Linked DNA regions of Homo sapiens: region 1 is linked to region 2. Evidence: fine-mapped expression QTL. A gene starts in region 2. The other region holds a variant in brackets. All regions are shown on one strand. Distances are between the middles of the regions. Region 1 overlaps COG5 (component of oligomeric golgi complex 5). Region 2 holds the start of HBP1 (HMG-box transcription factor 1).

The links. PIP is the estimated chance that this variant, and not a neighbour inherited with it, causes the effect.
Region 1: its variant is the best candidate, but not a certain one, in a credible set for the expression of HBP1 in whole blood (INTERVAL, PIP 0.71).

The regions. Positions count from the first base shown.
Region 1 is chr7:107,305,237-107,308,152 of GRCh38, forward strand. All of the region lies in intron 11 of COG5 (component of oligomeric golgi complex 5), which reads right to left. Among named protein-coding and RNA genes, the nearest start is that of HBP1, 140 kb to the left of the region's middle. The variant C/T (reference allele first, on the strand shown) is at 1,442.
Region 2 is chr7:107,167,360-107,170,230 of GRCh38, forward strand. HBP1 (HMG-box transcription factor 1) reads left to right here and starts at 1,644. Exons shown (of 11, transcript NM_012257.4): 1 at 1,644-1,826. RefSeq lists silencers at 1,172-1,745, 1,764-1,863, 2,124-2,343 and an enhancer at 1,294-1,453.

The DNA of each region.
Region 1 (2,916 bases), 140 kb after region 2:
ACTGCCTGTTGTTTGGAGGATTTGGCCTGAAACAGTCAGCCTTCATAGCTTAATTAAGTGCCGCCTTTGTGAGCAGGCTGCTACCCATTTCTTGCTCATTCCTTTTCCTAACTGGCCCAGTTCTCAATCAACTGCCAGGCCTTCACCTATATCACCCAGATTATGAAAGCAAAGGAAGCCAGTAATCTATTGCCTTTAGGATGTCTTGAATGTTTTGTTTCATAAATGTACTAGTTATCTATTGTCATGTAACAACTTGCCATAAACATTAACTGCTTATTTTAAAAACATACATATATTATATCATAATTTCTTTGGGTTGGGAATCCTGGCATGGCTTAGTTTGGTCCTCTGCTTCAGGACCTCTCACAAGGCTGTCATCAAGGTATCAACCATGGGTGGAGTCTCATCTGAAGAGTCAACTGGGGAAGGATCTGCTTCCAAGCTCTTGTGGTTGTTAGCAGGATTCAGTTCCTTGTGAGCTGAGAGCCTCAGTTTCTAGCTTGCTGTTAGCTGGAAGCTGACCTTGGCTCTTGCCAAGTGGAATGGTATGACAGCTGCTTGTATCGTCAAAATGTGCAAGCAAAGAAGGCAATAGAGAGACCGCCTGAGAGCAAAATGGAGGTTAAAACCGTATGCAACCTAATCACAGGAGGGATACGCACTTTGTATGTACAAGTTAGAAGCAAGTTCTGCCTATATTTAAGAAGAAAAGATTACAAAAGTGTGCCAATACCAGTAGACAGATGTACTGAAGGCGATCTTAGAATCTTTCTGCCACAATAAAATATATCATATTTCATTCACATTAATGGGAATTATATAAAAGTCAAATACTAAGGGCCATACAGCAAACTTGCAAACACCTACTTTTCAAATACTTATATACTGTAAAGTATATTAATCCTTTCTAATACAAAACAATGACAAAACAAAATCAGTTTTACATAAAAAATATAATTGTCTAGAGTATTATTGGAAAAAAATGCCCAAATACACTAAAAATAGTTCAGACATACAATAAGAGTACCAGAACAAAACACAGCTAAGTCATTTGCCCCAAGTTAATGTTTTTCATCATTCTTTCTGCTTTAGCCACTGAAGTGGGTAATAATTTTTAGAAGCAAATAAACATTTATATGAACTAAAGCTAATTGTAAATAAATGTAATTTTCTTTAATTATAGTTCAGAAAAACTCAAGCCAGAATAGAAATAAAACAGACCTTTGTAAAACTCAGAGAAATCTCATTTAAGATTAACAGATATTAAAATGCAAGTCTTATATACAAAATATTAGGATGGAATGAATGAAAATATCTGTCTATAGCCCTAAGAGATTTCTCACATTTTGGTTTTCTATTGTTTCTCCTCCTCATAATGGCAGCAACACAAAGTTATGGAATCCAATACCAACTAGGTATGCATTCTGTACTGCAATCC[C/T]TTATTTTTTAACAGGGATATAAAGCATACACAATCTCTTCCAAACTTCTAACTCTGTAAGCCTCAATCCACTGGTGATAGGAAAATGGCCATCTTTCCTATCTCACAGAAAAACAAAGGCTTCTAGGAAAGAAACTCTTCAATTTTCTACCTTCTTCCCGTCTATTTCTAGTCTTCAACTTTGACAGGAACACACGTCCAAGACCTATTTCTCAATTTCTGTTCTCTGTTTCATCCCAACTCATCTCCTCCAAGATTATTTGTTTCTTTTGTATTTTTAGCACCTCACTTTCTACTGGCTTCCTCTTAGGATCAATAAAAGATGCCTGAACATGCTCTCTCATGATATAAAAAAGTACAAACAAGATGCCAACACACTCCGCCTTAACTCTATAAACTATTCATTTGCAGCCACTGTCCTGTTGCTCCTTGTAATAACAGTCTGCACACATTTGCTTGCCTCTTCCAGACTGCAGCCAGACTTTCAACTGCCACAACACCACTGAAATTATTCTGGTGAAAATCACGCTATCATTCCAATTGCCAACAACAGTGGGCGTTTTTCTGATCTCTCATTTGATTTCTGTTGATCACTCTCTCCTTTGAAAAATACTGTCCATGACCCCATTCTTTCCTGTATTTTCTACTTCTCTAAATTTTTCTTTATTCTTCTGTGCTGACTTCCTTCCTCTGCCTTAAGTGCTTTCCTTAAAATTCTGAAAACACTGTTTTTATAGGTTTCAAACATATAATGTAGAGAGAATAGTATAATGAACCTCTGTGTATCCATCACTTAGTTTCAGCATTTGTCAACTCTTGTTTTTATCTATATCCTGGCCAATGCCCCTCCATCACTACCAGTTATTTTGGAGCCAATATCATTCTATCATTTCACTCATAATCACAAGTATATCTAATAGTAGGAACTATTTTCTTTATATAGCCACAGGAGGTCATTATTCTAAGTGTAGTAACTCAGGAATGGAAAATCAAATATTGTATGTTCTCACTTATAAGTGGGAGCTAAGCTATATGAATGCAAAGACATAAGAATGATATAATGGACTTTAGGGACATGATGGGGGAGAAGGGTGGGAGTGGGGTGAGGAATAGAAGACTACATATTGGGTACACCCACTGCTTGGGTGATGGGTGTACAAAAATCTCTGAAATCACCACTAAAACACTTATCCATGTAACCAAAAACCACCTGAACCCTACAAATTATTGAAATAAAAATAAAAATTACACAAAAATACATAGCCACAGTTCTCTTATACTTTACAAAATTAACAATCAGTGGTGACATCTGCCTGATTGAGTTAGGAATTTTTTAATGCTTTGTTTGATTTAGGATCCATAAATAGTTCACCTATTATAACTAGTTGATATATCATCAACCTAATCTGTAGTTCTCTCATTTTATTCTTTTTCATTATTTGTCTAAGAAACTGGGACATTTGTCCTACAGAGTT
Region 2 (2,871 bases):
ACACGGGAGGACTACTTTATAATTTCACTTCACGGATTCAAATGGGGAATTCTCAAGAATTTTAAACTCGATTTCAACATGTGGGGGCTTATTTTGGATTTCTTGATTTGTTACGCGGCTTTCAGGTATATTTAAAAATCCAAGAAATGCAGGAGGTTTTAAAGAAATAACTAGCTGTGTGATTTCTGGCTCTGTCCAAAGGTTTGCTTTTACAGATTTCTTACTAATGTAGGTTTTCCTCATCTTAATTCTAAGCATATATTTAGTGATCTAAAGTTAGAAAATCTAAAGCACAATTTAAATGATTAAACACTAAAGGTTCAAAGGGGGGAAAAAGCTTAATCATGCCTTTGTAATGTGAATGGTAAAGACACCAATTATTGACTAGATGCAGCCGACTGTGAATGGACAGCCATGTTTAAAGAGAAGTTAACTATAAAGCAGGGAAGCGTCTCTGGTGAGTCAGAGAATTCGTAACTTGAGGAACTCCTAGTGGAAATGAAGTGGAAAGACAGTTTCTTTCATCAATGAGAAAACGTCTAGAAGGAAAAGAGGGTTAATAAAACTCACCAGAGAAACTTACTGATAATGATTCACAAATTAAATCAGTTTACGTCATACATTACACCCTTTGTATTACGTTAACCAACGAGCATACTAATCAGTATGGAAAATGCCGCTTTAACTTGCCTCAATTTCGTAATCGCCCGCCCCCGCCCCCGCTTTGTAAATTCTCTAGACTCCAGCTTCTCGCTTGCTCACAGTCCATCCCCCAGCCTCACTCTTCCTGGCACTTAGGTGGCGGCTCAACAAACTTAGGTGAACTGAACAGAGCTGACAAGGCAATCTCAAGTTGCTGTCCTGGGAGTGGTGAGGCAAGGCACAAGAGAAAGGACTTCTAGTTCTTCCCACTGCCAGTGCAGCCCCCAGCATCACTTTCGACCCCTTCGTGCCTGGGGCCGTGATTTGTGGGTGATCAAGTCCCTCGCTAGCCTGCAGTACTTCCGCTGGTGCAGTCATCTCCTTCCCCTCGCACTAAAACAATACCCTGGCCTCCTGCCAAACTCTTGAGCAGCGAGCAACTCTGGCTGTTTATGGCCCGGATTGGGTGCTGCAAGAGGCTTGGGCCGCTCTAAGTGTTAGCAGAGGCCCGGAGGAAAAGAAGAGGCCCAAGCTTTAAAACACTCCCTTCCTCCGCCCCCTCCCTTTTGTCCCAGACACCAAAACAAACGAGCTGATACACGTGTCCCTATGACTCTTGTTTACTATCAAGACTGCGCTGTGCGAGCGCCTCTGGGATACGTAGTCCAGCTCTTCCCCGGCCAGCAGTCTCCCACAGCCAAGGACCAAGGCTTGAGACTACGAACCCACAATCCATTTCGGGGACAAAGTTTGGCTTGGGTCCCCGGACTCTCGGCAATAGTCCAATCCGAAGCACTTACTCTTGTGATTGACATGCCATCTTCTCCAGTAAACACAACACAAAAGTCAATACATGCCCGCCCCCCGAGACGGACCACGGTACCACCCAATGGGAAAGGGGAAGAACCGAATGGCAGTTCTGCAGTCCAATAAGAGGGCGAAAGAGCTGGGCGGGGCTCAACCCCCAGGGGGTTGAGGGGAGGGGGAAGACGAAGCTTGAAAGACTTGGTAATGGCGACGGGTTTGGTAAGTAGGAAAGTTTCGGTTGAGGAGTAAGAGCTGCCGCGGGAGCAGTAACCCGCGCGGGGGAGGCCGACGTCGGTCGGAGAGGGGGTACGAGAGCTGCTGGTGGTGTTGTCGTGGCCGGAGCGGCCCGCGCCTGGGCTGCCGGCACTTCGCGGCAGGTTTGTTGTCTTTCAGTTAGGGAAGAGGTGGGGGTGGGGAAGGGAGGGGCAGGAGCGCGGGGGATTGGGCAGACTGGAGGGCTCGGGTCCTCGTTCCTTCTTCTCGGAGGGTTGCCCTTGGGGTGGGGGCAGTTAACCGTTCGATTGGTGCCCGCGGCGAGCCCACCGGAGCAGCGTCTCCCGCGAGCTCACCTGGGCTTCGGGGCGGCGGCGCTAGGGGGTCTCGGGCGGGGGCCGGGAGGAGGCAGGGGGAGGGCGAAGTTCCGGGCCAGGTCGCGCGGTGGGTGGCCGGGCCGGGTGTGGAGATGGGGCGGGCCAGGGCGGGGGAAGGGGCCGACGCAGCGCCGGGGCTGCCCAGGAAAGTTTGACTTCAACTCCCCGTTTGTGGGCGGAGGGTCGGAGCTTGGCCAGGGGTGGGGGGCTGGCCGGAGGTGGGGGACCCCAGTGAGGCGCCGCCTCCTTCTGGACTGAGGGGGATTCTGGCTGAGCTGAGGAGCTCGCGGAGCCGCTGGGCCCCGGGGCTCATTGTTACGCAGTTCGAATGAATGGGCTCCCAGGCGCCTGCGCGCTGGGGCTGAGCCGAGGGGAAAAACAAGCCCGGAGTCCGGGCTGCGGTCACATGATGGGGGGAAGGGAGGGGAACGCGATGAATGGCGAAAGAGGGTGGGGGATGGACTTGGCGTGAACCGGGAGGCACCGCTCTGTGTGACCCAAAGAGGAGGCTTGGCAGGCGATTCCAGTCTCCGCCTTTCAACCTATGCTGCCACCGCAGGCCGATTGAAACAAAACAAAACAAACCAGGCGAAGTGGACAGCCAGGTTTTTGTAGCTTTAAATGCTGCGTGCTGTCTAGGGTGTTTCACTCTCCGCTGTGCACTCTACACTCGAGTTCATTCTTAGGGAGTTTTCAGCTACAGTCGTTTTTAGAAGGAGCACTGACAGCGAGGTAATACTCAAGTTTTCTGTTTGTTTTGTTTTTGGCTCATGGTGCCACTGATGCCAGGACGAGAGGAGGCTTAGAAAAGGAGTTATACATACTGGGAAGC